Linked DNA regions of Homo sapiens: region 1 is linked to region 2. The links come from fine-mapping of genetic effects on gene expression. Tissue or cell type: whole blood. Region 2 holds a variant in brackets; the other region holds the start of a gene. All regions are shown on one strand. Distances are between the middles of the regions. Region 1 holds the start of FAM13A (family with sequence similarity 13 member A). Region 2 has its middle 8.0 kb from the start of TIGD2.

Region 1 (5,385 bases), 47 kb after region 2:
AAATCAATGTATAAAAATCACAAGCATTCATTTACACCAACAATAGGCAAGCAGAGAGGCAAATCATGAATGAACTCCCATTCACAATCGCTACAAAGAGAATAAAATACATAGGTATACAGCTATCAAGGGATGTGAAGGACCTCTTCAAGGAGAACTACAAACCACTGCTCAAGGATATAAGAGAGAACACAAACAAATGGAAAAACATTCTATCCTCGTGGATAGGAAGAATCATGATCATGAAAATGGCCCTACTGCCCAAAGTAATCTATAGATTCAATGCTATTCCCATCAAACTACCATTGACATTCTTCACAGAATTAGAAAAACTATTTTAAATTTCATCCAGAATCAAAGAAGACCCCATATAGACAAGACAATCCTAAGCAAAAAGAACAAAGCAGGAGGCATCATGCTACCTGACTTCAAACTATACTACAAGGCTACAGTAACCAAAACAGCACAGTACTGGTACCAAAACAGACATACAGACCAATGGAGCAGAACGGAGACCTCAGAAATAACACCACATGTCTACAACAATCTAATCTTCGTCAAATCTGACAAAAAACAAGCAATGGGAAAATGATCTCCCATTCAGTAAATGGTCCTGGGAAAACTGGCTAGTTATATGCAAAAAACTGAAACTGGACCCCTTCCTTAGACCTTATACAAAAATTATCTCAAGATGGATTAAAGACTTAAATGTAAAACCCAAAACTATAAAAACCCTAGAAGAAAACCTAGGCAATACCATTCAGGGCATAGGCATGGGCAGAGACAAAAATGCCAAAAGCAATGGCAACAGAAGCCAAAATTGACAAATGGGATCTAATTAAACTAAAGAGCTTTTGCACAGCAAAAGAAACTATCATCAGAGTGAACAAGCAGCCTACAGAATGGGAGAAAATATTTGCAAACTATGCATCTGACAAAGGTCTCATATCCAGAATCCATAAGGAACTTAAACAAATTTACAGGAAAAAGACAAACTACCCCATCAAAAAGTGGGCAAAGGATATGAACAGACACTTCTCAAAAGAAGACATTTATGTAGCCAACAAACCTATGAAGAAAAGCTCACCATCACTGATCATCAGAGAAATGCAAATCAAAACCACAATGAGATACTATCTCGAGCCAGTTAGAATGGCAATTATTGAGAAGTCAGGAAACAACAGATGCTAGAGAGGATGTGGAGAAATAGGAACGCTTTTACACTGTCCGTGGGAATGTAATTAGTTCAACCATTGTGGAAGACAGTATGGAGATTCCTCAAGGATCTAGAACCAGAAATACCATTTGACCCAGCAGTCCCATTACTGGGTATATACCCAAAGGAGTATAAATCATTCTGCTATAAAGACACATACACACATATGTTTATCGCAGCACTGTTTACAATAGCAAAGACATGGAACCCACTCAAATGCCCATCAATGATAGACTGGATAAAGAAAATGTGGTACATATACACCATGGAATACTATGCAGCCATAATAAGGAACAAGATCATGTCTTTTGCATGGACATGTATGAAGCTAGAAGCCGTCATCCTCAGCAAACTACCACAGGAACAGAAAACCAGACACCACATGTTCTCACTCATAAGTGGGAGTTGAACATTGAGAACACATGGACACAAAGGGGAAACAACACACATCAGGGCCTGTTGGGAGGTTGGGGGTGAGGGGAGAGAACTTAGAGGATGGGTCAATAGGTACAGCAAAAGAAAAAAGAAAAACAAATTGACAGAAAAAATGGTAACAAAAATAAAAATAGGATAGTTTCCTTTTGGCTTACCTGAAGTGGCTATTTTAGCTATTAGTTCAAATATTTGTAAATTTTAAAATCTATCAAATTTTCTAGTGACAGCATGTGGAAGAGAAAGTTATTGAAAAGTCAGTTAGCTAATTTTTCAGACTGCAAATCACATATGTAGAATTATGGTTGTCTAGAAGTATGTTGTTTATGTTTATCATCAGTATATTTTTATAAGACAACTCATACATAATTAGAAGTAGTAACGGCTACATAAAATAGAGCATTTTCATTTAAAACAATTCTGATGGGGTAGCATGGAAGGAAGAAAATTTTGGTAGAATTTAGCTGGTTTCTAAGGAAGAGTAGAAGAGAAAACTGCCTCAGAAAAAATGAATAATGTGCCTGCAGTTTTAAACCTGAGTCTGAATACGTACATTTTGCTTAGAGCTGTGTGGAATCTGGGAAGCAAGTCTGTGTTTTCACTTTATGCACTGTTGGTTCTATTAATGAAAGCCACCAGGTGACTGGCAGTTTTCGGAGTCAAAGAAGCCTGTGTGTAGGATCTAGGGAGTCAGGTTTGAAAAAAAGATGTCAGCGACTTAAGACCCGTGTCACGTGACTCCCTCTACTTGCCAGCACTGAGGCTGTGGATCAAATTTCAACTCCAGGCAGTCCTTCCAGCCATGTGGGTTCAGCGGAAAGAGAAGCAAAACCACTCTTCCTAAAATGTTAGAAGCTGCTCTTCGCTTACCTTGGGGCCTTTGCATTGGGAGCTGTTTTTCACATCAAAGAATATGTGCTGAATGGAATTTTAGTATTTTGCTGTCGTTTTAATATTTTCGTCTGGTCTTCCTCAGTTCTTCCAGACGCTTTCTGAGAGAATGGGGGCAGGAGCTCTAGCCATCTGTGTAAGTATAGGCCTTCTTCTGTCTTCTGTGTTTACTGCCAGTTTTTAGGAGAGGGCCTTGCCTTCCTTGTTTTGATGAGATGTTTGTGTAACTTATTTTTCCTTCCCAGGAGGTGGGGAAAGATTTGTTACTTAAATTCCTATCTACTTAAATGGGTATTAGGCAGGATTTGGGATGGCATTCAGCATATTTGTGCACTTTAGTTTCCAAAAAAGGTGAAAGATGCATGCTGATTTATTCCGTTAAGTCAACTTGATTTAAAGTAGAGCACTTTCAAGCATTTTAGACTTTCTTGTCCCTGAATAGTTAAACATGAATGCTTCATTATAGCTATTAGAGAAATCTTGTGGCTAGCTTGAGGAGGAATTGAAGTAACCATTAATTTATTACTTTTGAGTATGTGTGTGACATTTTTCTGTTTTATATTTCTATTTTCGTTTAGTAATTCTGGAGTTTCTGTTTCAGCATGATTGCTGAAAGTGATGGTGGAGAAGCTCAGTTGATAAATGTTTGTGTATCCTTAAACTGTAGAAATGAATGGTTGTTATAACACAGTAGCATTAATAAATAACACTGAAATAAAATCCTTGGGAAAATGTGCATATTTCTGGAGTTTTAGAATTTTTAGAATTTATGAATTTCTAAATTATTCTGCTGGTGCTTGTACAAAACCTTTTGTAATAATCAAAAATTGTCAATTATATAATTTGCAGAATGCTGTAATTTAAATTTTGATTGTACTATATAGAAAATGCATATATCTGTATGAGAATTACACATATTTATGTTTCAAGTTGCTATTGTATTCCATAGGGACATTTTATTTTCTAGAATGTATTAAATGAGAAATATCTTCTTCCTTATTATCACCTTAACTGCTCACTTAAAAAATCACACTCAGGCCAGATCCTCTTTTTTTGTGTGTGTTTCAGAAAGAGCTGCAATTTGCTGTAGCTTCTGATGGCATTCTGAAGTGTTTAGAAATATCTGAGCAATTTTTGACACACAGACACCAAATGGTCACCAAATGGTCACCAAATGGTAGACCAGCCCTATAGATTAAGTTTTCTTAGTGAAACTGCAGGATGACCTTGTTTCCAGGCTCAAAACTTTTCAGCACCATGTATGTCACTCTGTCTTCCTTTTAACTCTGAGGCTTAGTAGCATCCAGGTATCCATGTGGTTATTCTTTTTTTATCACCCCAAAGAGTTTCCTTCAAAATCTGATTTATCTATGTGTAAAATACTGACTTTTACTTTACTGCAGAGGTGGCCCTTCTATTTTTCTAGCTTTATAAAAGAAACAATACAGAACTGAAAATGTGTAGAATGAGGCAGCAGATAGGTCATGAAGATTGGTAGTCATCTCTGATTGTCTGATTAGATCTTTACTTCTTTCCCTTGACCTGCAATATATTGATCTCTACCTTGACTGGAATGCACACTGACTCATGTATAAAACTTTATATTTTCCCTTAATTTATATCCAAAGCATGTATAAAATTTCAGTTAAAGTTGACATAAAAATCACACAGTGTAAGAGATTATTCACTCTGGTAGATGAGTAATTCTCAATCATTTCTACCCTTCTCCTTAAGGTTGGCCTTTGATTGTGCTGTCTTGGTTTTACTGTAGGAGGAAATACATTTTCAACAGTTGTACCATAGCATATCTGGAAAAAGATAGCTTTTGGAGAACAACAAAAAAAATTTTAAACATCGTGACAAAAAAGGGAGAACTAAGTCACACATTAATACATTCAATGAGCTGATACACTACTTTTTACTTTGTGTAGGAGTGAAGAGAAAGCTTTTCCTCTGCCCTTTCTGCAATTTTATTGAAACAATTGGCAATAGATTAATAGGAGAAAAAGAGTTACAAATTTATTAATATGTATATGGATATGAGAGCCCCTCAAATATGAGATTCAAAGAAGGGCCAGGTGGTTGAAGCTTAAATGCCTTCTTTTTGGGGAAGAGAGAAGTAGGGAGCTGCAGGTAATTTTAGAGAGGTAGTAAATAATTTTTAAAGTGAATGAATGGGTTCAAAGAGCATGGCCTGGGACAGCGTTTCCCTGAGCTATGGTGAGGTGGTGGAAAGGTGAGGGGTGGAATGAAGGTTGTGTTTTTATGCAGATAAAGTCTCCCAGCCAATCTCTTGGAGCTGTCCTCAGAAGAATAGATGAAAAGTCAGTGTGGATATGGTGACAGCTTTTAGTCTCTTTTCTGATGGTTAATTTTTCATGGTTATTTGATGAGATTCTCAGGAAGTAGATCTTAAGACAATTGCATTTCTTTTGGAAAGAAGCTTCCTTAATCAGATAAGGAAATTCCAGAGAGAGTCACTCTCAGTGCTTTAGGAAAGAAAAAGAGAGACTGAGGGAGGGCAGGAGAGTGGAAAGGCAGAGAGAGACCTTGGTTCTGAGGCTTATTTCTGAGACATTTTAATTAAAAATACCCAGCATGCCAAAGCACCATATTTTGGGGTATAGCTTTTTGAACCCCAACATTTAGGACTTACATACTTATACATATATGTAGCAACTACTGAAATATCCTGCTGCTGAAGACATTAATACTTCAGACAGTATAATGAGTACTAGATATCTGTAGTACGTACGTGTGTGTGTGTGTGTGTGTCTGTGTGTATCTTTGTGTGTCTGTATGTGTGTGTGGACTCTTGAAGTGGGACACAAATTGGTTCCAATAAA
Region 2 (5,385 bases):
GCCATGACATATCGGTGGGGCTACACACATAGTCCTGGAGCAACACCGTGAGAGTCCATTGTCATCCTTCCCATGTGAAGGTGAACTGTTCCTGGCTCTCTAGAGCAATGTCAATTGAGAAGAATGCATTGGCCAAGTCCACCACATAGTGGTACTGTCCCAATTCCATCGTCAAGTGGTCCATCAAATCCGTGATAGATGGCACAGCTGCCAAGCAGTGTAAAATATCCACCCCCAGAATATATTCAGGTATGGGAGAGACGTACACAGTATAAACAGGGAGCCAAGTGGCCAATACCAAGGTGCAAAGGTACAGGTTTCACTTTCACTGACTAGCCTCCATAGCCATTTATGTATGCAGCTTTACCCGGAAACTTATCCGGGCTCCCATAGACAAGACTACAATCTGTGCCAATGTCTACCAGCACCAGCACCTGCTATACATTGGTGGGGGACCAGTGGATTGCTAATTCCACATGTGGCCTCTGGTCATCTGGTGTCCCCCCAAGCCGGGTATCTCAGCCAGCTCCCTAATCAAACACAAAAGGCTCTATACCTCTGCCTGTCTGTAAGTAGTCCTTGAGCCAGAGCATCTATCTGGGTGGGCATTTCCGGAATTGCTGCTTTGGGGTCAATTGCCTCCACGAAGTTACCAGCACTTCCCAGGTCGGTAGGGGCTCCCCCAGATGGTGCCAACACTGTTTGCCTAACTCCCACAAATCACTGGGGGTATAGGCACTATATGAAGCATGCTCCACCATGGTAGGGGATTCCTGGGTCTGCTTTTTGGGCCCAAGTGGCTATTCATGCTCTATTTTCTGGTGGACCATAGGGTTAGCCCGCAGTAGGGGTTCTTCCCCCTCAGTATCAGACCAAGCGGGAATGTCCAGCTGGGAGGGTGGGCTCAAGCTGTCACTTATGGCAGTTCCCACTTCTTATTCCAAACTGTGTATCTGGCCCTCCAGGCGCTTGGCTTGCATCTGAAGGTCCCTTACCTGTGCTGCATCCTGCAGGGAGTGGGCATGCACTGACCATAGTGCAGTCAAAAATGCCCATCTGACTCTGCTGGCAAAGGCATGCTCCTTCTCGGTGCTGTGTGCTTCCAGGTGTTTCAGTACCTTCTCTGTGCTCACAGGGGACCCGTCCACTGCTGCCCATGTTTCTACTGGAGCCCATCCTAGCAGCACAGCCACATAGCCAACCCAGGATCACTGGGGGCTGAGGACACACTCACCTCGGAATCCTGCTGACTACACCAATTGTCAGGTTCCAGCCTGAGCTGGGGTCTGAGGGGAGTTGATGGATGGGTGGCGGGTAGTTGGAAAAACACTCGGGGCACTGTAGGCAGTTGGGATATGGCTTTATTCTCTCTCTCTATCAGCCTTTGTCTCAGCCACCCCCATACCTGTAGCTGTGCCATAGCCCTTCTCAGCGCTGGCTTTGCAGCTCCTGCCACCCACATGCCTGTAGCTGTGCTCCCCAGTGCACTTGCCACTTCCTGGCTCCCCTCCTGGCCACCTGCAAGGTAGCCCAGCTCTCTCTTACAGAGTTAGCAGTGCGGTTATATTACAGAAAATGGTGGCTCAACGCCAGGTGATGAGCCCACCCATAACATGGTTACATAACTGTGATTATATACTGCACGGGATTGTGTGCCTGTGCTCCAGTCCCACTGTGTCATGCAGCACCAAATGTTTACCTCAGCCTACCCTTGACTCCAGTGCAGCCACTTCCCTTACAGTTGCCACCTATACTTGTGAAGGACTAGCTGTAAGTTGCGATTCCCATGGTGCCCCTCCTTGTGTTCCATTAATTTGCTAGGGCAGCTCCTCACTGAACTCAAGGAAACATTTTCTTGCATTTGCTTGTTTATTATAAGGGATAAAACTCAGGACCAGCCAAATGGAAAAGATGTATAGGGGCAAGATATGGCAGGGTGGGAGGCACGGAGCTTCCATGCCGTCTCTGGGCTTGCCACCTTCTCAGCACTGGATGTACTCAACCTGGAAGCTCATCAGATTTGTTGTTCAAGTGTTTTTATAGAGCTTCATCTCCAGCCCAGTCCCCTTCCCAGATGCCAGTGAGTGGGGCTGAAAGTTCCAGCCTTCTAATCATTTGGTCTTTCTGCTGACCAGCCTCATGCTGAGGTTATCTAGGGGCCTCACCCTAAGTCACTGTATTAGCATAAACTCAGGTACCATCAAAAGAGGGTTGGTATAAATGTCAAAAGACACTCCTAACATTCAGGAAATCCCAAGGGTTTTAGGAGCTCTGTGGCAGGATCTGGGGAAAAAACCAAATATATTTCATATTATACCACAGCATTATTGTTTTATTAAGAGCCCAGTTGGCCACAGGGAACTTCCTATTGTCAGTTCTTCTCTTTGGGTCACAGCATCCTTCCATCTTGCTATGCCATTCTTTTCTTTCTTCCCCCAACATTTTTCTATCTCAGGGTCCCCTCTCTTCTCTTTTTTTCCTTCTCACCTGCTTGTGAACGCTCAAGATTTTTTTCACTTCATTATGCAGAGCAATTTTGTATTCTTTTATCTCTTTTCTAACTTCACTTACCATTCACTGTGGTTTATCTCTAATGAAAAGTCATTTCAGTCATTGGGGAAGTTCTGTCACCCATATGTCTCTTTTTTCTACATATGTGCAACTCTCTTAATCCTTGTAACAGTACTATGAGGTAGATGTTACCTATGTTTTATGTACAAGAAAGTAAAGGCTAGGCTGGGTGCAGTGGCTCACACCTGTAATCCCAGCACTTTGGGAGGCCAAGGCAGTCAGATTGCCTGAGCTTAGGAGTTTGCGACCAGCATGGGCAACACGGTGAAATCCCGTCTTTACTAAAATACAAAAAATCAGCTGGGAGTGGTGGCGTGTGCCTGTAATCTCAGCTACTCAGGAGGCTGAGGCAGGAGAATTGCTTGGACCCGGGAGCCGAGCTCCTGCACTGCTCTCTAGCCTGGGCAATAGAGTGAGACTCTATCTCAAAAAAAAAAAAAAAA[AAAG/G]AAAAGAAAAGAAAGGCTCAAATGTGGGTAGCAGAACAGGGATTTGAGCCCAGTTACATTTGGGTTTAAAGCTCCATGCTCTGCCCATGCTATCACAATAGAAGTATTTATGTCAAAGACATGAAAAGAAGAAAAGTATACTGTAATTATTTATTCTTGCAAAATTAAAGTTATTTATTAAAATAGAATATTTAACATGAACTAATAAAAATGGCTTTCTACTCATGAAAGCACTGCAAGTCTGCAATAGTGTTCATTTGCTTCATTGGAATGAGAGTTTTCTGAAAACTATCCCAAATCACCTGAAATTAGATTGTTTCTTATCATTACAAGCCCTAAATTTTCTGCTCTGCTGAGATAATACAGACATACAAATACCTTACATGGACTTTGAATTATTAGTAGTATTCCTTATGCAAGATAGCTTTGTTATAGAATAGGATATCTCTAGGTAGATTTACATTCTTAGTTTTTAAGGGACTCTTTTTTGTTTTTGGTTTCCATTTACTTTATAATTGATTCTCATTCACTTGAAGATTTTTGTTTTATGATACCTAATAAGCTTAAGATGAGGACATGGGCCAGACGTGGTGGCTCATGCCTGTAATCCCAGCACTTTGGGAGGCCAAGGCGGGCAGATCACTTGAGCTCAGGAATATCAGACTGGTCTGGGCAACAAGAGGTGAAGCCCCGCCTCTACAAAAAATACAAAAATTAGCCAGGTGTGGTAGTACATGCTTGTAGTCGAGCTGCTGGGGGGTGCTGAGGTGGGAGGATTGCTTGAGCCCAGGAAGTCTAGGCTGCAGTGAGCCGTGTTCATGCCACCATATTCCAGGCTGGGTGACAAAGTGACACCCTGCCTCAAAAAAAAAAAAAAAAAAAAAAACATGAATTTTTTTTTATCACAATGCTATTATTCTATGTGTAATAAACTTATTTAATATAGAATAGTATTTGCCTTTAGTAACTTAATTATTTAGTGCCAATAATAAATCAGTGGTTTGCACAAAAACCATTTACTGTCACCTACCTTAAGGGACATAAAATATTGAGGGGAATTTTCCAGATAAAATATAATTTATTCCTCTTTTGAAGTATGCAGGGGGATATGGGTCTGTTAGGGCAGTGGTCCCCAACCTTTTTGGCACCAAGGACTGGTTTCATGGAGGACAAACTTTCCACAATGGAGGAGGTGGCGGATGCTTTCAAGATGAAACTGTTCCACCTTAGATCATCAGGCATTAGATTCTCGTAAGGAGCATACAACTAGATCCCTCGCATGCGCAGTTCACAATAGGGTTCGAGCTTCTGTGAGAATCTAATGCTGCTGCTCATATGAAAGGAGGTGGAGCTCAGGCCATAATACTTGCCCATCTGCCACTCACCTCCTGCTGTGCGGCCCAGTTCCTGACAGGCCACCAACCGGACCACACTGGTCTGTAGCCTGGGTGTTGGGGAACCCCATGTTAGGGAAAACAGGATGTGAAACGGTTCTCATCAGTAAAATGAAAGCTTTTCCTTTGACATCTCTTTCAGCTCAAACATTATTTTACTTCATATTATAGACGAACCTTAATTAGAAAATATATATAAAAAATATAAATAGAAAAAGATATCCTTTTGCATAAAGGTAGGGACACTTCTCCACTTGAAAGTGTCTAGACACAAGTGAAAGTTCTGATTACTCACTGGAAAATCCCAGATCATTTTTAAGAAGTTGGTAAGTTACAATACTGAAAGATAGTGAGTTCTGAGACTCTTGAGTCATGTAGATGCCCAGTGGGGAACTTTTAAACTTTGTTTTGTTTTCTTTGTTTCTTGGTTGGCTGGTGGATGGTAGGTTTTCAGATGGCTGGGAGCATAGGCAAAGGTAAGAGAATGAGTTCCCAGGAGGGTAGAAAAGATTTAGTGGGGTTTAAAAAAGAAGTGAAAATTATTGGTGGCGATGCTTAAAGAAAAGTTAGACTCGTTTCCTGAAAATCACTTAGATGTAAATTGAAGAAACCAGTGAATTGGCTGATTGGTATGAGAAATATGAGTAGGAAATGTGAATGAAAATTATATACCCTGCTTACCTTTCCAAGCCTGCCCAATTTCCAACATTCTTTAGAGGAGCCCTCAATTCTGTCCCAGGTTGGTAAGGTCAGGTTAACTGAGAGCCCATTGTGCGTCACACCACTCATTCTCCCTCTCCTCAGCACATGCAGCTTCATAATTTTGAGCTTTTCATGCTTCCCCTTTAGTCTGGGAAGCTTTCTTCTTCCTCTGTACATCCGTACGTCCTTCCAAGTCCTACTTTGTCCCCAAAGCCACATTTATCAAGGTTGCTCTTCAAACCCTGTGGGTTGGAATCACCTGGAGTCCAATA

What was found. PIP is the estimated chance that this variant, and not a neighbour inherited with it, causes the effect.
Region 1: it holds the start of FAM13A, and the variant in region 2 is fine-mapped to the expression of FAM13A in whole blood (INTERVAL, PIP above 0.99).

The regions. Positions count from the first base shown.
Region 1 is chr4:89,054,228-89,059,612 of GRCh38, reverse strand. FAM13A (family with sequence similarity 13 member A) reads left to right here and starts at 2,428. Exons shown (of 24, transcript NM_014883.4): 1 at 2,428-2,675. The coding sequence starts at 2,649. RefSeq lists an enhancer at 2,565-3,127.
Region 2 is chr4:89,100,859-89,106,243 of GRCh38, reverse strand. No RefSeq gene overlaps it. Among named protein-coding and RNA genes, the nearest start is that of TIGD2, 8.0 kb to the left of the region's middle. RefSeq lists enhancers at 4,473-4,622, 4,733-4,972. The variant AAAG/G (reference allele first, on the strand shown) is at 3,015.